2 separate regions of the Homo sapiens genome follow, and region 2 is linked to region 1. A link means that fine-mapping ties the variant in region 1 to the expression of a gene that starts in the linked region. Tissue or cell type: aorta. Region 1 holds a variant in brackets; the other region holds the start of a gene. All regions are shown on one strand. Distances are from middle to middle.

Region 1 (10,413 bases):
GGGGCTAGGCTTTCGCCATGCCACGAGCAGATGCCGGCGTGTGGCCTCTGCAAGCTCAGATGCCACCAGGCCCCTCACCTGGGGCACGTGGTCACGGTTGAAATGCAAGGTGAGGCGGGCACAGTTATTGTCCAGGTGGCCGGAGCGTGGCAGGCAGGGGGTGCTCGGTGGCTCTTCTGCGCCGCACTCCCCCCAGGCCTCACAGGGTGGTCGCAGACACTGGCCTGGGGCCTTCTCCAGGCACCTTTGCCCCAGTGGGCACTGGGCGCTCAGGGCCTCGGGCTGGCCGGCCAGCAGACAAGGCTTCCATCCGCACCACACCTGGGCAGGCACGCACAGGAGGGTCAGGCGCAGGCGCACAGGAGGGTCAGATGCAGGCACACAGATGAGAACCCACAGGCAGGCACGGGCCCCATGCCAAGGAGGGACACCGCCCAAGTCTGTGAGCCCCAGGGCCCAGCCCACCCCCTACCCAGGGCTCCCAGGGAGGCAGGCCAAGCTCGACATCAGAAAGGGCAGGCGGAGCAAGGCAGGACCCAGACCAGGCCTGTTTTCCCAACTGCACATCGAAGCATGGGGCCTGGCTGAGCTCTCGCCTCCCTGGGTGTCCCTGAGGGCAGACGGCTCTCAGTCCATCCGGACCCCAGCACCCGCCTCCTGATCTCACAGAGTGGCCAGGGTCAGCGTGCACCAGCCTCGGGTAGGGCAGGGCGGCTCACGGGCTGCCCTCACCTTGCTGCAGTCACGGCGGCCATCCAGGCAGCGGCAGCTGTTGCAGTCTTCCACCCAGGAGCTTCCGTGTGGGAACGGAGTGCCCCGGGACCAGCAGGATCTCCCGAACCCGATCACTGTGGGGAGAAGGGGCTCGAGGGTCAGCAGTGGGCATCTGGCCCTCGGGGCTGGGTGTCACCCATGCCCCCCAACCCGCCCCAACCCAGGGCAATCACACGGGGCCTACCTTCCTGGCACCGGGGGCCGGCTCGGCCGGGTGGGCAGCTACAGCGATACCCGTTGATCTCATCCACACACGTGGCCCCGTAGGCACAGGGCGAGGACTGGCACTCGTCGATGTCTGCAGGGAGAGCCACCGCTGCTCAGTGCAGTGAGGCCAACGCCCACCGCAGGACCGGCATGGCCTAGGGCAGCGGGGAGCCAGTGGCACACAGGCGCAAGCCCCAGGACAATGAGGAGCAGCCCCTGCCCCCGAGCCCAAGCTGCTGCCTGCCTGAGGCCTTCCTGAGCCCAGCCTGACCCTGGCCCAACAGCACCCTCCTCCGTCTGCTTCTGCAGTGGGCCTGTCCCATCCTGGATTAGCCCCAGCTGCTGCGTCGGACCAGCCAAGGGGTGCTGGACAGACAGCTGGGCCAACACCCAGGGACAACAGCCCTGCGGCCACAGAGGAGCCCACGTCAGGCTGCACGCTCCAACCCCCACAGCTCCCTGGGCCCCGGACTGGTCCCCCAGGCTGGGGCTCCCCACTTAATCACTTGGCAGGGTATACAGCAGGAACCCCACAGGGCACAGACATGTGGGGAAACTGAGGCTCAGAAGAGAGGCAGGAAGTAGTTGTGGCCACACTGCCCTTCAAGGGACGTGGACGTTGATGTCCCCAGACTCCTGACACCGCGGCTGGGCTGAGGGGCTCCCAGGGCTGGGGCTGTCTGGCCACTCACTGATGCGGCAGTCAGGCCCCGCGAAGCCAGGTGCACACTCGCAGCGGAACCAGTTGACGCCGTCAACACAGATGCCACCATTGTAGCTGCAGAGCAGAGGGTGGGCATCAGGTGGCCCCCCGTGGTATGCCAAGTCCCACCCACCCCTGCTGTGGCCCCCAGGGTGCCACTCACCAAGGCAGAGGGTTGCAGTCGTTGGTATCTGGTTTGGGAGAAGAGAACGCAGGGGATCAGTACCCACCCCCCAAGCGTGCCAGGCACTGTCCAGGCTGGCTTGGCGTGATCAGGCTGTGGGGCTGGGGAGGGTCATCAAGGAGGGTGCCTTTTGCTGGGGGCAGGGGCAGCAGGGGGAGGGGCTGGCAGAAGGGACTGGGGGGCGAGTCGGGGGCAGGGATGTCATCTGGGTGGAGGAAAGCGGCCCCCGCCCACACCCCTCCCACACTCACTGTGAGTGCAAGTACGACCCTCCCAGCCGTCCCGGCAGATGCAGGAGAAGGAGGCCCCGCTGCCCACGCAGGTGCCACCATTCACACAGGGGTTGGGCAGGCAGCTGCTGTTCTTGGCTGTAAGGAGAGGAGGAGGAGGGAGCGTCTCACCTGGCCCTGGGCTGGCCCTGGGTCTCCATACCGCGCCCCCAACCCAGACAGGGCAGACAGACCCGGGGGCAGGGGGCAGGGGGCAGGTGGCAGGTGTGGCCCTCAAAAAAGACCCCTCGGCCCATCGCGCCCGAGGGAGCGGTGCCTGGGAGGGCATATGCCCGGCGGTCGCAGAGGCAGCGGGGGCTCCTCACCGACGGCGCAGGTGCTGCCCTTCCAGCCGGGGGGGCAGGCGCAGCGGAAGGTGTCGCCGCTGTCGTAGCAGGTGCCACCGTTGCTGCAGGTGTAGGCATCGCACTGGAACTCGCCTGTTGGCACATGGGCCGCTCAGCAGGCAGGCCCCAGACCGCCAGGGCCAGGGTCCTGGGGGCAGCCCCAGGCGGCCAGGGCCTGCGGACACTCACGTGAGTGGCAGGTCTTGCCCTTCCAGCCGTCGTCGCACGCACAGTAGAAGTCATTGACCAGGTCGTAGCAGCGGCCGCGGCTGTGGCAGGGATCGGGAAGGCAGTCGTTGGGATCTGGGGGCGAGGACGCCGGTCAGCGGGCGGGGGGTCACCGGCGCTCAGGGAGGGCTTCCCGGGGGAGGAAGCACTGGAGCTGGGCCAGGTGAGGACAGAGAGGGGCGGGGGAGGAGCGTCGGGCCGGGGGAGCTGGCCTCGGGCATGGGGGCAGCCTGGGACTCCACCCCATGGTGGCAGCACCCCCTGGCCAGGCCTTTCTGGGTACGGGGCCTGCCGCACCCAGACAGCGGTCCATCTCAGGGTGATAAGGGGCCCACAGGGGTGGAGGCACAGGCCGTGTGGGCGGGTGCTGGAACACTCACTGGTGTCGCAGAGCTCGCCCTCCCAGCCGCTGGGGCAGAAGCAGCGGAAGGCGTCCACCTCATCGATGCATGTGCCCCCATTGCGGCAGGGCTGGCCCAGGCAGTCGTCAATGTCTGCAGAGGCGAGCGGGGTGAGCCAGGGCCTCAGGCCAGCCCAGCCCCACCACCAGCCCGCCGTTCGTGGCCACTCACTCTCATGGCAGTAGGTGCCAGTAAAGCCACTGTCACAGATGCAGGAAAAGTTGCCCCCTGGCTGGCTGACGCAGCGTCCATGGGGGCCACACACGCCGGAGGCTGCTGTGCCAGGCATCCCAGGCCCCGCGTCTGACCCGCAGCCATCGATCACTATGGCAGGCAGTACAGTCAGGAGTCAGGCCCGCCCCTGCCCCACCACCTCCCCCACCACCCCATGCCGCACCCAGCACCTCTGCAGGCCCCGCCAGGGCACGGCTCGCGGGGCACGGAGCAGTTCTTGCCACCAAAGTCATCAGGGCAGGCGCAGTAATAGTCACCCTCCAGGTTATAGCAGCGAGCGCCGTTCCGGCAGGGGCTTGGCTCACAAAGGTCGACATCCACCTGCAGGGTGGGGGGTGCCTGTGAGAGCCTAGGCCCAGGCCCAGGCCGGGAACACAGGCCAGGCCTCTGTCCATACGAAGGTAGATCCCTGGGGACCCCCAGGCCCCTCCGCCCTGGGCCTAACAGTGCCAGCCAGAGCCCAAGACCCCTGCCCACCTGAGACTGCCCAGGCCTTAGCTGAACGCAGATACCTGTGGGCCCCCACCCCCACCTCCACTGCAGCCCAGCTTCCTCACTGTCCCTCGGGAGGAGTGTGGCCTTGGCCCCTGCTGCTGGCAGGAAGGACAGCTCCTGAGCCCCTCACACACTGCCTGGCCACCCTCAGAGCCAAGACTGTGGGTCTTTTCCAGGGCCAGCCACTGCCATGCTTGCAGGTCCTGAGGTCAGACCCCTGCCCTGGGCCCCAAGAAGCCCTCTGGACAGGAGGCCCATCCTCTGCACCAAGGCCAGGGCAGGATCGTGGGCGGCCGAGGGTGGTAGGGAGGTGGGTGGGGGGAGGCAGGGAAAAAGGGGAAGTAAGGGGAGGGGGTGGTAGGGAGGCAGGTAATGGGGAGGCAGGGTTGGGGGAGGTGGGGAAGGGGGTGGTAGGGAGGTGGGTGGGGGGAGGCAGGGTTGGGGGAGGTGGGGAAGGGGGTGGTAGGGAGGTGGGTGGGGGGAGGCAGGGTTGGGGGAGGTAGGGGAGGGGTGATAGTGAGGTGGGTGGGGGGAGGCAGGGTTGGGGGAGGTGGGGAAGGGGGAGGTGGGGAAGGGGGTGGTAGGGGTGGTGGGGAAGGGGGAAGGCAGGTTACTTTGGAGGCAGGGGGGAAGGGGAGGTTGGGGGAGGGGGTCCAGTACCAACAGATGGTCAGAGGGAGGCGAGAGCATCAGCCCTGAGAGAGATGCCCACTCCGACCCAGGACTCACCTATGACAGGTGTATACCTCTCCACCATCAGGCACCCACCCTACCCCATGTGCTCTGCCCACCAGAGCCCCCTGCCCTCCAGTCCCGAGGGAGTGCACAGATGGACAGATAGGCCTGGGCAGCCAGCAGCCCGGGGGCTCCTAGCCCAGGCCACCAGGAAACCCATCACAACAAGCAATGGCCACAGGGGGCCAAGCCTGGTGACCTGTGACAGCCCCGCCTGCCCACCTGGCACCCAGTGGAGAGCTGAGCCTGGGACGCCTTGGGGACAACTTCCCCTGCAGCACCCCTGGGTCACTCAGGCCCCATGGTCAGGGGACGAGGCCTGCCCTACAGCTCCCAGAGCAGCAGGTGGGGCAGGGTGACCAGGCAGACCTCACCTCACAGAGAGGCCCGGAGAAGCCCTGGGGGCAGTGGCAGTGGAAGCCGTCGGCCAGGTCCTCGCAGAGGCCGCCGCTGTGGCAGGGGCTGCTGGCACACTCGTCTCGTTCCAGCTCGCAATGCCGGCCTCCGAAGCCCCGTGGGCACACACACTGGTACCCGTTCACCAGGTCCTGGGCGGGCCAGCCAGGTGAGCGTCCCGCAGGCACCCTGACGGCCCCGCAGCACCCACGCCACACACCCTCCTGGCCCCGCCTCACCTTGCAGGTGCCCCCATGCTGACACTGCCCGCGACAGTCGTTGACGTCTGGGGGCAGAGGAGCAGGGTCAGAGGCGGGGTCCCATGTGCCTCGGCCCACCCGCCGGCGCCCACCCCCCATACTGACTGATATGGCAGTTGATGCCCTTCCAGCCCGGGATGCAATCACAGTAATAGCCGCCAATCAGGTTTTTGCAAGAAAAAGCGTTAAGGCATGGCTTCCCTTCACACTCATTGGCGTCTGTGAAAGAGACAAGGTGGGAGCC[G/A]TGGGGCTCGGGCCCTGCCTGCCCCCTGCAGCACGGGCACCTGGCACCCGCAGCCCAGCAGCCCCAGCAGCCCCAGCAGCCCCCGCAGCCCCAGCAGCCCCCGCAGCCCGCATGCGCGGCCCACGTTCCCATGCACTCGCTCGGAGCCCTTACCCAGCTGGCAGGTGGCCCCCACCCACTGCTCGGGGCAGATGCACTCAAAGCCGTCCACCTGGTCCACACAGGTGCCACCGGCCGCACACGGGTTCGAAGCACACTCATCGATGTCTGCAGAGGGTGGAGAAAGGTGGGGCCCTGGCAGTGTGAGCCGTGGGAATAAGGTCCCCATGGGCAGGTGGCGCTGCAAGCCTGGGTCTTCCTGCCATTTGTCCTCGCCAAGCCAGCCGCAGCCACACGTGTGGACTTGACCACTGCACCCCATCCCCAGCGAGTTGCCCCACTCCCAGACCCCCACTGATACTAGGCAGGAGTCCCCTACTCACGTGCAGACACTCACCAAGGGCACAGGTGGGCCCGCTCCAGCCCGATGGGCAGTGGCATTCGAAGCCGGACGGCACCTCATGGCAAGAGCCCCCGTTGGCACACGGGTTGGAGGTGCAGGCGTGCTCAGCTGTAGAACCGCGGGGAGGGGGCAGAGCTGGCAGCCAGGCCCCCAGCTTTCCACAAGCACTCCTCCCCAAGCCCACAGGTTCCCAAGCTGGGGGTCAGGGGCCCACCACACAGGACGCCAGAGGGATGGGGCCTGACCGGCTCCCCAGGGAACCAGTCCCTGCCTGGCCAGAATTTGGGTGGCCAGCCCCCCACGTACCCTTCTCACAGTTCCTGCCCGAGTAGCCGTCAGGGCAGGTGCAGCGGTACTGGTCAGGCTCGGCGTTGATGCACGTGCCTCCGTTGGTGCAGGGGTGGTGGCTGCCACAGTAGTTCAGGTCTGGGGGCAGGGGTGGGATGCTCAGGGGAAAAGCCGGCCCCCCGCTCCCCCACAACCCACACTTCGATGGCAGAGCATTAGGCCTGCCGCCCCCTACCACTACCTTTGTCACAGAGCAGGCCGCCCCAGTTGGTCTCACAGTTGCACTGCCAGGGCTCCACACAACTGCCATGCACGCAGCCGGGGTAGGGGACACACTCATCGCAGAACCTCCCTTGCCAGCCGTAGCTGCACCTGGGGGAAGGAGGAGGGGCGCAAGACCCAGTGAGCTGTGGTGCCTGAAAGGGTGGCAGGGGAGCCAGGCACAGTCACCCACGCCACACCCAGGGCCGGCGGGCGGCCTCAGGCCTTTGAACTGGAGCAGCCCCAGCCAGGCAGGGGTTGCAGCCCTGCCGGCCAGCCCCACTGTCACGGGCATTCCCGGCCGCTGGCTGCCGACGGTCAGCCCCAGCTGTCCCGTCACTCCTCCCTGAGCTATTTTGGGATTCACCCGTGAGCTGGGCCCCGAGAGCAGGCACCAGGAAAGGAAGGCCCTGCCGGGACCCCGGGGATGAGAATGCCGGCTCGGACTCACAAGGTGCTGCCAGGGCCGGGAGGCACCAGGGGCTGGGTAGGCCAGCGGGCAGCAGGGGAGCACTCCTGGCTCTGCCTCGGCCATGTGGCCCTGGGCACAGCACGTGCCCTCGCCCCCACCTCAAAGGCAGTCATTTCGCTCGCTCCCAGTAAAGTCCCACAAGGTACCCATCTCACAGATGGGGCTACTGAGGCCCACAGGCTGGCCTGGGCCAGCCCTGCCCAGGGTAGTTCCTGATTCTGCAGGAGCTCCAGCTGCACCCCCAGCTGCACCCCCCAGGACACAACCACCAGGACTCGCCCTGCCCCAGGCTATCGGCCAACGTCCTGTCTTGGGAGTCCCCCAGGAGAGGGCAGGTGGCCAGGGTAGAACATGGCCTGACTTGAGGGTGCCTCCGTCAGGGGAGAGAGCCTGCAACGACCCCAAGGCTCAGCAGGCTGCCATCCAGGCCCTGCCGGGACTCCCGGGGGGCCCTTCCTAGAACTCTCCGGTCCTGCAGGACGGGAATGTCATCCAGGCCACGTCACTTCCACACCGGCACCCGCCACACTTTATTTTTGTAAAAGGAAAGAACCACGGCCCTTCCTGAGCCGCCCTCAAGCCACACAGCCAGCACCGAAGGCCTATCAGCCCAGTTCAGCTGCCACAAATGGGGAAACTGAGGCCGGGAAGAACGTGTCTCCAGTATCCAGCCCAGCATGCACAGTGGTCCGCGTGGGTGGCCTCACATCCCGCCTAGAATCCCTCCTCCACAGACACAGAGACCCAGGCTCAGGGCGGGGCTGTGACACACCTTGGGTCATCGGCCAGAGAGCGGCCACAGCCGGGCTCAGAGCCCAGACCTCGTGGGTCCCAAGGGCGTGCTCTCGACCCTGGGCAGGGCAGCCCACACCAGGCCCCCACCTCCTGGTTTCCCCAGCCAGCAGCCCCAGGGCCCTGGAGAGGCGGCGGCAGGAAGGCATGGCCATCTCCGCAGCATCCGGTGGGGGGGCGTCCTGCACTGGAACCTGAGCCGAGGCTGTCAGCAACAGCTGGGCCTCCCCGACAGGGCCAGCAAGAGGGGCAGGCGGAGCTCACCTACTGCCCCCACCCACCAGGCCCCCCAGACTCCGGCTCATCTTCCTGCGGGTAAAGGGCAGGGATGGCCAACTTCTCTGCTGCCTTCCTCCAGCCTTGGTGTGACATTCAAGCTGCCAGCCAGCAGCCATCCAGGGAGGGTGGCACTGCCATCCAGGTTGTGTGATGCACACTGGGCCAGGCGAGGGTGAGTGGGGCCGACTCCCGTAGATCTACATCTACATCTGCCCAGACCAGGTCCACCTTGTTGCACTTTCTGAGCTGACTTGGGACTCGCTCAACCTGCCGGGAATCCCTGTGTGTGCAAGTGACCGGGTGGGCGGCCCCAGCCCTGCTTGCCTCCCCGCTCTGGGACTGGCCGGGAAAGCTCCTCACTGTACCCTCCAGGCCACTCAACCGTGGGGCCTGTGGAAGGGTCACCCACCTCCCCACCTTGGCTCCCAACTCAGCTGGTTCCCAAACTCCCCGACTCCTCTCCAAAACGCCACGCTGTGTGACCCTGGGGAAATCAGTAGGCTCTCTGTGCCCCAGTGTCCTCGTCCCATGGAGGCAAACCCACTCCACAGAGGGAGGTCCTGGGACCCCTGCAATCCAAGGCTGGCTGGAGGGCGGTGCTCACCTCCACCTGCTGTCTCTCCACCCGCTCGCGCCCCTCTCTCGGGCTCCCCAGCTTGCTCACGCACAGTGAGCGCCACGGCTCGAAGCCCGTGCCCACCCCAGACCCTGGGCCCCAGCCCCTCTGGTTGCCCTGCTGACTTCTCTGCTCCACTCTAGGGCAAAGCTGCCAGCCCCCCTGGCTGGATCCCCCACACTCTGGTCTGGGTCCAGAGGCCTCCACCATCTGGACTTGGCTGTAAGACCCCGGACACTCCCTTGTGGAGGCCCTTGCTGACTCCTCATCCATCCGCCCTGACCTGTGGCAGCCGGGACTTGCTCCTTGGCCTCCCTCCTCTCTGCCTTCCCCACTTTCCCGTCACCGCCTGAATGCCACCCCCCACAGGCCCCGCGTGGCGCAGGCCAGGCCTCTCCCACGAGCTTTCTGGGTGTCTCCAGGGACAGGGCAGGCATCGCCTCTCCACATCCAGCTAACCCCGGCCCCGCCTGCTCCTCTGTGGCATTCCTCCTGCCACCATGGCTCTGCTACTCAGCAGCTTGGGGTTCTCCCTGACTCCACACCCTTCCTGCTTGATCAAATCCATCCACAAACCCCTGGGCTCCACCCCAGGATGTCTGCAGGACCCGTGCGCCTCTCCCCCTTCCACTGACCCCCTCCCCATCCCGCTGGCCCCTCCCCCACCACCCCCACATGCCCCACAGCGGCCTCCCCCTCACAGCCTCCCGTCTGGTGCTTCCCCACTCAACAGCTACCACAGCCCTTCCACCCACCTTGCCCAGCTACAAACCTGCCAGCAGCCCCTTCCTCTGTCCCTGGTCCTGCAGGCCTCAGCTCCCACCACTGGTCTGCTCTGCCGCCCCTCGCCTGCTGGTGTCACTTGCCGGCCGCTCGCCGCCCACCCCCTCCCCATGGGCAGGGTTACCGTGTCCTCTGCCCATGCCCCATCTCTGGGTGGCTTGCAGCCTCCGGGTCTCTGCCCCTCGGTGACGTGACTGTCCAGCCAGCCTCCCCAGTCTCTCCTCACTGTCCTCACATGGCTGCCGCCATCAGACACATCCCATGCTCAGACACGCACCTACTGCACTAAGGAGCCTCCCGAGCTCAGGGCCCGGCTCTCACAGCTGTGTGCCCAACCTCCAGCCAGCTCCGGGCGACTCCTGACAGCAAGGCTGTGTGTGCCAGTGAGGACGTGAGGGCAAAGGTTGGGAGGGCAAAGACGGGCCGGCGGCACACTCACCTGCACTCCCCAGGCACGGTGCATCCCCCGTGGAGCAAATTACACCCTTGTTTACACACAGCTGCGAACAGAGAGGAGCGAGAGGCACAGCTGCAGCCAGCCTGGCCGCAAGGCCTGTGCCCGGGGCCCTGCCCGAGGCCCTCCCTGCCCTCCACGCAGCCCAGCGGCCCCCTCACCTTCCTTGCACTCCTTGCCCATCCAGCCGTCCATGCAGGCCTTGTTGCCGTACTGGTCGCAGGTGTAGTGGCCGAAAAAGTCGTTGCGGGGCCGGCAGAACTTGTTGCAAGTGGCGCTGTAGTAGTTCTCGTCGCAGCGCACGCGGATCTGCAGCTCCAGGTGCGCCACGTGGCCGCTGAAGTGCAGGCTCTTCCAGCGGTCCTCCGGGTTGATCATGCCGGCATGCGACACTCGCTCGATCAGCAGCTCCTCTTGGGGAGGCGGCAGAGTCAGCACAGGCCAGAGAAACCAGCCCGGCCAGGGGTCCTCCAGGAACAACGGGGACGG
Region 2 (10,413 bases), 30 kb after region 1:
ACCCTCCTCCTTCCCCAAGACCTCAGCTGGGGTCAGGAGCCCATCGTAGCGTCCCTGGGGAAGTGGATGGGCTTCATACCAACATCTAGTCCTGGGAAGGCAACCCCACCCCAGCTGGCAGCCCTCGCGGGGCAAGAGTTGGTGCCTCGAGTTTGGTGGGTCAGGTCCCAAAGCGCAGGCTCTAGTGCCTGTTCCCCAGGAGAGCTGGAGCCACCCCTTCTCCAGCCCAGGACACAGCTTCTCCCTCATTCCTAAGCCACCCTCTGAGAACAGAGCTGTGAGTCACCCCCACCCCCAGCGCCCGGTCTTAATCCTACAGGAAGTAGAGGCACCTGTCAGCAGCAGCTGTCACCCGGCCTGCCTCACACAGCTGGGGGCCGCAGGCTGGGGGCATGGGGCCGAGACGCTGCAGAGAGAGCCCCAAGAGCCCAGATTCTGGCCTGGCTTAGGAGCTGAGGCGCATTCGGTCCAACCCTCCCCTAATCCCATGTTGGAAAACAAGGAGGAATCCATCCTGCTTGCACACTCCCAGGGACGGGGCCCTCACTCTCTCCCATCTCCTGAGTCACACCACAGGCCTGAGGGCCTGGTCCCACTCACCAGTATGTGGCGACCCGGCGCAGATCAGAGGGGGCCAAGTGGTAGCCACACTCCTCCCAAGCCTCCTTGCAAGCCACTTCCTCCAGCGAGAGCCCAGGCTGGTCCACGAGGCCGGCACACAGCTCAACTGTCACCCCCGCTGAGCCGGGCAGGGCTGGCTGTAGCTCCCGAGGCCCGTCCTGGTCTACAGCTGCTAGGGACCCTGGGAAGCGGCGCTCCACCTCACCCGCATACACAGCTGCGTGGGAAGAAGCCAGACTGTGCTCACAGCCACGTGGTGGCCACCTCCAGGTCACCCACACAGCCAAGCCCCCTCCCAGGGCCTCAGCTTCCCCTGGAGCCCCCTCCCACATCTGTATTCAGACCCTCAGGACCACAGGGACCTGAAGGTGACCCTGCAGATCCCCTTCCCACCCCAGCTGGCCTCACCTGGCCGGAACTGCTTCACCAACACCAGGCTCCTCCGAGAAGAGTTGAATAAGAGAACGGTCACGCTGTGTACGGGGGGAGGGGCTCAGCACAGAAGCACTCCACTGGCCCTCGTGGGGCCCCACCTCCCATCTTTCTGTTCCCAGCGTGGCCATCCCACCTCCTTGCCAGCAGCCCAGGGAGGTCAGGCCCCTTGCTCAGATAGGATGGCTGAGGCCCAGGCGGGACCAGAGCTTTCCAGGGTCACAGTCTGGCCAGGACCCAGACCTGCTGTATTCCAGCTGGCAGGATGGGAGGCGGGGGGCAGGGAAGGACACACGGGCAGCTGAGTAGGTCAGGGTGCTCGCAGCTGAGGCCGGGTGACTGACAGGACGTTTGGCCCTCACTGAGCAGCTGCCCACCAGCCACACTCCTCGAGCCACGTCGCCATCCAGCCCAGACCCTGGATGCTAGGGGCAAAGGCTCCAGGACAGCCTCTCCCTGCCCTGAGAGGGCCTGCCCACCATCATGGTCCCGGTGGCCTGAGCAAAGACCTGACTCAGCCCCCAGGCCTCAGGCTGACCCCTCAGGGATAGGAAACCCAGAGGCCGGGCAGAGAGAAGGGACTTTTGGAGCCCACGCAGGGAACAGCAACGTCAGGGAGGAGAGGGCACCTTCGCCCTGGGCCCAGTGTCCCCGTAGACATCAGTCTGGGGCTTCCCCAGTGGCCAGGCTGGGCCAGGCTCTCACCTGTCATGCGTCTTCATGAAGTCCCAGGACTTCTGGGCACCATTCTAGAAGGGGCAGGTCAGCGGTTAGAATGTCCCAGGATGGGCGGAGGTGCTCGGGGAACCGAGGAGGCCACAGACCCATTGCACCCACTCCTAACCAGGGAGATCGGCTCGTGGCCTGGGCCCACGGGAGCCAGGAACTGCAGCTCCCGTGGGCAGAGGAGCAAGCAGCCTGGGAGGGGCAGGGAGGTCAAGGACAGCCTAATACCCTACGAGTGAGGCAGAAGACCAGGGCAAAGGGCAGGGAAGGTGTCCAGGCACCTCATGAAACACTGCCCAGCACAGACCGAGCACAAGGGGCTGCAGAGAGACGTACACCGTCACCAAGTATAGGAAGGCTCATGGAGGCTCGGGGAGGGCAGGCGTGACTCCCTCACAGCAGGGCAGGAGGGCCCTGCAGGCAGAGGAGAGGTCAGGTTTTCCTGCTGATGCTTCCTTGGGCCACTGAACAGGTGGAGACGGGAGGGCAGGAGGGGCCGGCACCAGGAGTGGATGGGGAAGGGTGGCAGGAGGGGCTGGCACCAGGAGCAGATGAGGAAGGGTGGCGCCCCAGCCAGGTAGGAGATCGCACTGCAGGACTCGGTGACTGTCATGATGGTGACCAGGCTCGGCAGCCCCCCCACACACCCCTACCCCCAGTTTCTGGCCTCGACTCTCCCACATACCCTGTGGTCCCGTTCTCCTGTGGCCACCCTCCACCTTCCCACTCCCCCACACTGGGCACACCACCCTGGCAGGCCCCTGCACCCTGGGTGGCACTCAGTGAACGGAGGAGGCAGGGTGGGCAGGTGTGTGGGCTGGGCCTGCTGGGGGAGGCTGGAACTGATGCATTCTGAGATGCACTCCCATCCTGGGGGCTGAGCCTGGGGTCCCGCGGGGTCCCATCTCCGGCACGCTCAGCCCATCTGCCACTCTGAGGCCCAGGCCAGCTGCTCATCCCCCACCGGGGGCTCTGCCCAGGGCTGTGAAATGGACAAGAGGTCTGAGCAGCAGAGACACAGAAGTGCAGCCAGGACTGCAGAAGAGAGAAGAAGCCTTCCTGAGGACTTTCTGGAGGAGGTGACGGAAGTGAGGGAAGGGACTCTGGGCAGGCAGAGGCGCAGAGGCCCTCTGAGCTTGGCCGGGAGGCAAAGGCGTCCTGGGAGGAGAGTACCGGTTTCCAAGGGAAGGGAGGGCCGGCGTCCCGCGCAGGTCAGGCAGCCCGAGAGGCCGTGGGGTACCACTCCCGGGAGGCGACCCCAGGCCTGCCTGACACCCAGCCACCCCCGAACCACCACCCAGCCAGGGCAGGCTCCAGGGAAGCCCCCTGCCCACAGCCTGCCATGTGCCTGCTGTGCCCATGCCCCTTCCCCACCACTGCTTCCCCCCGAGTAACATCACCCCATGCAGGTCTCAAGGACCCTCTCAGCTCAAGGTCAAAAGCGTGTCAGACCCTTAGGTCCAGCCAGGTCAAGGTGCAGGGAGGTTTAGGGAGGCTGCTGAGGCCTGGGAGGGAGGGGCAGGGCTGGGTGCAAAGAAGACCCCATCGCCTCGGAGCCACGGGGGTCCCCTGCCTTTGGTCTGCCTGACATCACAGGCCTCCCCTGGCTGGACGCAGCAAAAAGCTGAGGGCTGCAGCTGCCCCTGGGTGGCAGCCAGCGTCCAGCCCAATGTCCCTTGGCCCTGAGGAGATGCCGCCCAGCCCGAGCCTACATCCGTGTCCACCACAGCCACAGCCCGAACCAGCTCAGCTCTGGTCACCAGAACCCTTCAGCAGAGCTGTGCCGGCGGGCTGCCCGCTGAGGCTGCAAGGGCTGCCCTGAGGCTTCACGGGGAGTGAGGGAGAGAGTGCTGCCACCAGGGCCACAGAGGGCACCTGCCTGGGCCTGCACCTGCTGCCTGAGACCCAGCCCTGTGGGGACTGTGCAGCCACAAGCAGGCATCCCATATGGCCAACGTCAGGGAAAAGGGCAGTGACCCCATGTCTCCACCTGCTGTACCCCGACTGATCCCAGCTGCCCCCTGCCAGCACCACCAGCTTAGCTTCGCCTTGGGGAGAGGGATCCCCTGTCCTCCAGCGCCAACAGGACTCCCGCAACAGGGAAAGTGAGGGGCACAGGGCCTCTCTCAGGCTGGGGGCCAAGAGGGCTTCTCCAGGATGGCGAGGGGCAGAGTCCTGGATGTGATGGGGGGGACAGGATGCCCCCTGAGGGAGGGAGGCAGGCAGGCAGAGAGGCACTGCGACCTGGACCACCTGACCTGATAGGCTGGGGGGCTGGACTGACTGTGACCAGGAAGGTGGTCTTTGCCTTAATGGCATGAAGGAGCTCTGGCAGAGGGGAGATCTGCTGGGGGCAGGTGGGCATGCAAGCAAAAGGTGGGGCCCTAACTGGACAGGGCTGGGCTTGGAGGAAGACGGCCCGGGACTCAGTGATCCACTGGATGTGGGAAAAGGATGGCAGCAGCTCCTTCACCCAACACATATGCCTCATGCCTGTAATCCCCATGCTTTGGGAAGCCAAGGCAGGAGGATCGGTTGAGGCCAGAAGTTCAAGACCAGCCTGGGCAACAGTGAGACGTCGTCTCTACAAAAAAATTTAAACATTAGCCAGGTGTGGTGGTGTGCACCTGTGGTCCCAGCTACTGGGGCGGGGGCTGAGGCAGGAGGATCGCTTGAGCCCAGGAGGTTGAGGCTGCAGTGAGCTGTGACCATGCCACTGCACTCCAGCCTGGGCGACAGCAAGACCCTGTCTCAAAAACAAAACAAAACAAAATATTCCTTGTGAACCTACCATGTGCCTGGTGCTAAGTGAGGCAATACAGCCTCTTGTGCCGTGGCCTGGCATGGGAGAAGGTGACACCCTAGGAGGTGGGGAAGGCTGAGCTTAGGCAGATGGAGACTCCAAGGAGGTGCCCTCCCTGGAAAAAACCCCAAGGAGGAAGCCTGCTTTGAGAGGCTCTCTCAAGTTCTCACTCAGCTCCTTCTCCTACCTCCCTGCGCCCGGCCTCTGCGCTCCTTGCTCCCTCCTCCTCGGCCCAGCTATCTCCTCCTTCAAGTGGTAGCATGAAAGCCACCACTTCCAGGAAGCCTTCCCTGATCCCCAGGGCAACCAAGGAGTTCCACTGCCAAGAGGGTCGGATTGGGCGGGCGGGAAGGATGGGGCCCAGCAATGCTTCCTTGAAAGGATGAGTGGTGCCCCCTCAGATGTCCCTCCCGCGGCCCCTCCCCGGCCTGGGGGCTCACTGGGTCTGGGAACCCGCGATCCGGCGGGCGGACAAGCGGCCGCCCGGGAGATCGGCGGGAGGCGGGGGCGGGGCTCCGGGGCGGGGCCGGCAGCGCGGAAGATGGTGGGCGGGGCGCGGGTCGTGGGCCGGGCCGCCGGCGGGGGCGCGGGGGACGCGGGGGCGCGGGCTCACCTGGCGGTAATGCAGCGTGAGCGGCCGCAGGTAGGGTGAGGCGGCGCAGCGGCCCACGGACGCCCCCTCGATGCGCTCCATGGCGGCGCCCGGACAGGCGGGGGCCGCGAGCTCTGCGGGGGCCGACACGGGGCGGCGCCCTGTCCCGACAGGAGCCTTCGGGCGGGCGCGTGACCGCGGCTCTGAGCATGCTCCGTGGGCGCGCGGGGCGGGGCGGCCGAGGTGGGCGGGGCGGCCGAGGTGGGCGGGGCTCGCAGGTGCCACCTGTCGGGTGCCGCGCGCCTCGGGGCGCTGGTCGCCGCGGTGCCAGGGAAGCCGCGCAGGCACGTGGGCGTCGCCCGGGGGAAGGACTGGCCGGGTCGACCCCGGCCGCCGGGCGGGGCCAGCCGGGCCGGGGTACAGTGCTTGGGTGGGACTCGGGACCTCTTGGCTGGGGGAGGGAGGGCCTGGCGGTGGTTGGAGCTAAGGGCCTGCAGCTTTGGGGTGCGATGGGCCGAGCGGATGCCTCCCCACTCTGGGGATGGACCACAACCCCGAGATTAAGTTACTCCAGGGGTCCGCGGGCGGGGCCGGGGGCGGGGCAGCCCCCCAGGGAGGGAGGGACTGTGGGCCCAGGAAGAAAATCACAGGAGACCAAAGAGAGAGGGCCCTGGAAGGAAGCTAGGGGAGAGGAGAGTAGGGAGCTGGAGGGGCCAGAGCTTGGGCCGAGGGGGCCTCCCCTCGAGGTTCCTGGTGGCGAGGGTGGCTGGGAGCTGCCACGCTGTCTCTGGAGCTGTCCCTCCTCCACTCAAAAGCCAGCTGCCCTTCCCTCCCCCTGCAAGTCCTACCTTGATGACGGCCCTTCCTGGGTGTGGGAGGGTCCCAGGCAGCTTCAGTGCTTCCTTGGGCATGGATTCCAAGGACCCCCTCCAAATGCCACCACGGCCTCCACGGGGGCAGGAAACAATATTGAGGCCCACACTGGCCCTGAACCCTGACCTGCACCTGCTTTCTGAACTATGGCCCAGGGGACATGCTCAGGGTGGACTGGCCATGTGAGCTTGAAATCGACTCCCAGTTCCCTGTTAACTATTGCCGTGTAACAAAACACTCCTCCAAAGCTTAGTGCCTTAAAGCACCCCGTTATCGCCTGGCCTGTGGGTTGCCCAGCTCAGCCAGGCAGCCCTGTCTTGGGGTCTCTCTGCAGTTGTAATCAGGTGGCAGCTGGGGCTGGAGTCGTCTGAAGGCCAAACGGGGTGGACCGTCCAGGATGGCCTCTTCGCCCCCGCCCTCAGTTGGGTGGCTGGAACAGCTAGGGCCGGCTGGCCTCCCATGTGGCTGGCGTGGGCTTCCCTGCAGCATGGTGGTCTCGGGGTAGTTGGATTCTCCCGTGGCAGCTGGCTCCCTCCAGAGCACGTTCACCAGGCCAGGCCAAGCTGCCAGGCTTTGTGTGACCTGGCCTCAGATGTCATATGGTGTCATTCCTGGGGCATCCTGTGGGTCAGAAAGTCCTGGGCCTCCGGCAGATTCCAGGGGAGGGACATCACCAGGTGGGAACGCTGGGGAGCACGGTCATGAAGCCAGCATCCAAGTCCAGCTGTCACCGCCCCAGTAGCTCTACAGGGGCCTGTGTCTCCCTGCTTTAGCCATTCCGCCTGGTGTCCCGGAAGCCAGAGCGCCCAGCCCAGAAGCTGGCCCCACCCTACCCCACAGCCAGGCAGGCCTCTTCCTCCGGTGCACGAGGGGCCCAGGGTAAGCGCGCACCCTGGCATGTCGCGTGCAGGCTCCTTCCTGCCCGTGGTTGCATGGAAAATGAGGATGAGTCTCAGCTTCCAGCAGCAGCAGCCCCGGGACAGGCAGAGGCAACAGGAGCCCCATCAAGGAGCCCCTGGGAGAGCCAGCAGCTCCTCAAAGCACCGTGCTCCTCAGACTCACTCGGGTCCAGGTGTCTGGCAGTGCAGACTGCAGAGCTGAGTGCCTGAAAATATCAGCAAGGAGCCCACTGTGGGACGCAGCCTGGCGGCTCCTCAAAAAGTTAAGCATAGAATTACCCTGTGGTCCAGCAACTGTCTTCCTGGGTATCCACCCAAAGGAGTTGAAAACAGACACTCAGACAGATGCTTCCTCACAGCAGCCAAAGGGAAGAACAACCCAAGCATCCGTTGCCAGGTGAATGGATCCAGAAAATGCAGTGTAGACGTGTAAGGTAGCACAACTCAGCCATGAGGAGAGAAATTCCCACACAAGCGACAGCGACACTATGCTCAGCAAAAGAAGCCAGACACAAAGGCCGTGTCCTCTGCGATTTTGTGTATATGAAATGTCCAGGCCGGGCGCGGTGGCTCATGCCTGTAATCCCAGCACTTTGGGAGGCCGAGGCAGGCAGATCACGTGATGTCAAGAGTTCGAGACCAGCCTGGACAACATGGTGAAACCCTGTCTCTACTAAAAGCCAGCCGTGGTGGTGTGTGCTTGTAATCCCAGCTTCTCGGGAGGCTGAGGCACGAGAATCGCTTGCACACGGGAGGGAGAGGTTGCGGTGAGCTGAGATCTTGACACTGCATTCCAGCCTGGGTGACAGAGTAAGACTCCATCAAGAAAGGCAAAGGCAAAGGCAAAGGCAAAGCAAGGCAAGGCAAGGCAGAGAAAGGGAGGGAGGGAGACAAAAAGCAAGAAAGAAAAAAGAAAATGTCCAGAACAGGTAAATCCATGAGACGGAAAAGCAGCTGCGGACTGGTGGGGCTGAGGGCGGGAGAATGAAGAATGCTGACTAATGGGTGCCGGCTTTCCTTTCCGTTTGGGGTGAAGAAGGCATTCTGGAAGCAGGCAGTGCTGGTGGCCGCACAGCAGTATGAATGTACTGAATGCCGCTCAGTGTGCACTGTGAAGTGTTTAATGTTCTGTGAATTTCAGTTCCATTTTAAACAAATTTTATTTAGAGATAGGGTCTCATGATGTGGCTCAGGCTGGACTTGAACTCCTGGCCCCAAGCAATTCCCCCACCTCGGCCTGCTGAGTAGCTGGGACTACAGGTTCACACTACCATGCCTGGCTCGGTTCAATTTTTTTTTTTTTAAAAAAAGGAAAAACCAGTGTCACTGAGGCTATTCAGGAACATTCCATGCTGTCTATGACCACAAGGCCACTGCCCACACGTGGAGCTGAGGACAGGGCAAGTGAGGCCTGCTGTCCCTCCGAGATGGAAAGGGAGAAAAGGCAGAAGCAGCCCAGGCACTTTACCAGTTCCTGCTGTGCACTGGGGTGGCTCGAACAGGTGATTCGGGGCAGGCCTGATGTCACAAGAAGTTAGGACAGGCATGCCAAGAGGCAGAGGACAGCCTCCCCGAGGACACGACACTCCCCAGAAACCCGAAGATCCAAGGCAGGAGAAAGGAAGCTGTCCTGGCAGGAGGAGACCGAGGCCAGAAGAGGCGTTGTGGCCCTGGGGGCAGCTCCCTTGGCCTGTGCTTGGCACATCCCCTGGGGCCACTGGAAGTCTCGGAGGGGTTGGGCAGGGCAGGTGGTCAGATGCCCCTCTGGGAGGTCACCGTGGCTGCCTGGGGCCGGGGGAGGAGGAGACTGGTCCGAGGGCCTTTGGCTGTTGTCCAGAGTGGTGGCTGTGCAGAGGATGGCTTCGTTCCCCATGGAAGCAGGTGCAGGAGGAGGAGGAGGAGCTTGATTTGGGGAGGGGCTCCAGGAGGGGGAATGAGAGGACTCCGTGTGGCCAGGTGGCCTGAGAGCCACAGTGGAGAGCTCTGAAAAGCCACCTCTGGCTTTGGCAGTGTGGAGGCTTCAAAGACCCTGCTGAGCATAGTGGCAGAGGCCCCTGCAGATGCCCTGTAGCGGGGCCAGAGGGCATGTGGGGTGAGAGCACCAGTGTCAGCTCCCCAGGGCTGCCAAGACAAACCACTGCCAACCCAGCAGCTGGGAACAGCACGGCCATGGCCTTCCAGCCCTGGGGGACGGGTGTCCAAAACGCATCCCACCGGGTGAAGGTCAAGGGTCACAGGGCGGCTCCTTCTGGGGGCTCCAGGGGAAGATCCATTCCTTGTCTTCTCCAGCTTCCGGAGGCGGCCCCCGCCCCCTCCTCACCTTCAAGGCCAGCAGAGCGCCCCTCCGTCCTCCCCCGACTCTGCCTCCGTCCTCGCGTCTCCACCCTCCTGCTCCCTCTTCTGAGGTCCTTGTGACCACAATTTAGGGCCCCCCCGGGTCATCCGGGGCCATCCGGGGCCATCTCCCACCTCGGGTCCTTCTGTTAGTCAAACCTGCTAAGTCCCCTTTGCCACAGAAGGTCCATACTCGCAGGTTCTGGGGATCCAGGTGTGGACTCTGGGGAGGATGCGTCGGGAGGGCATCACCACCAGGGCAGGACCCTGTGGCGCCAGGATCTGCAGCCTGGGGCCTCGCCCCGCAGCAAGTGGGCGGGTTTCTTGCAGGACACCTAGGAGACCGCTGTGGGCTTCTGTCCCCCTTCCTCTGTAAGGGGAGTGAGGCAAGGGCCCCTGCCAAGGATGAGATGGGAGGGGAGGGAGGCGAAGTGGCCCCTGTTGGCAGGGGGCTTGGGTGCGGGCTCCGAGGGGGCCTGGGGAGCAAGGCTTCCTGGTGGCACCGGGCTGGGGATGCTCCTGGGCCATGCTGGAGGCAGGGCAGGTACAAGGGGGGCCCCTGGGCTCCTCCATGGCTCAGCTCCTTCCCAGTAAGGTCACAGGCAGCAGGTGGATTGGAGAGTTGAGGACACTGAGCAGGGAGCTACAGGCATGACAGAGCCCAGGTGGGGGTGCGGGGGGTGGGGAGGACGTGGGGGAGTCAGGGGCGGGAGGGGTGCAGGAAAGCCAGGGGCGGGGATTCCGAGGTAAGTGCAGAGGGAGTGTCCCGAGAGAGGCTGAGTTGAGGGGAAGCTGGAGGAGGATCAGGATGGGGGGTCAGGAGGTCGGGGGTGTGGGGCACAGAAGTCCACTGGGTGTGGGCAGGAGTTGAGTGCAGAGTGCTCATAAGTGAGCAGAGTGGTGGGCTCCAGGACTGGCAGTGGGGTGCTGGGGGGATACAGCAGAGACCACACCCGGAGGAGCAGCAGGGGGCTGGGCCGTGTGTGTGTGTGTGTGTGTGTGTGTGTGTATCTGTGCATCTCTGTGTGTCTGTGTGTGTAATGGAGAGAAGCAGTATGTGTGTGTGTGGAGGTGTGTGTGGGGGGCTGTGTGTGGGGGGTGTACATGAGTGTGTGGGGGGTATGTGTGTGAGT

Evidence for each region. PIP is the estimated chance that this variant, and not a neighbour inherited with it, causes the effect.
Region 2: NUDT14 starts here. The variant in region 1 is fine-mapped to the expression of NUDT14 in aorta (GTEx, PIP above 0.99).

The regions. Positions count from the first base shown.
Region 1 is chr14:105,145,653-105,156,065 of GRCh38, forward strand. It overlaps JAG2 (jagged canonical Notch ligand 2), which reads right to left. Exons shown (of 26, transcript NM_002226.5): 4 at 10,086-10,337; 5 at 9,910-9,970; 6 at 6,509-6,639; 7 at 6,286-6,405; 8 at 5,974-6,087; 9 at 5,631-5,744; 10 at 5,339-5,452; 11 at 5,213-5,259; 12 at 4,952-5,125; 13 at 3,518-3,668; 14 at 3,285-3,437; 15 at 3,093-3,206; 16 at 2,674-2,787; 17 at 2,464-2,577; 6 more. It overlaps MIR6765 (microRNA 6765), which reads right to left and starts at 5,212; the gene lies at 5,126-5,212. RefSeq lists an enhancer at 9,339-9,937. The variant G/A (reference allele first, on the strand shown) is at 5,478.
Region 2 is chr14:105,175,934-105,186,346 of GRCh38, forward strand. NUDT14 (nudix hydrolase 14) reads right to left here and starts at 5,379. Exons shown (of 5, transcript NM_177533.5): 1 at 5,196-5,379; 2 at 1,759-1,802; 3 at 1,030-1,094; 4 at 601-838. The coding sequence starts at 5,276. RefSeq lists a silencer at 5,079-5,548.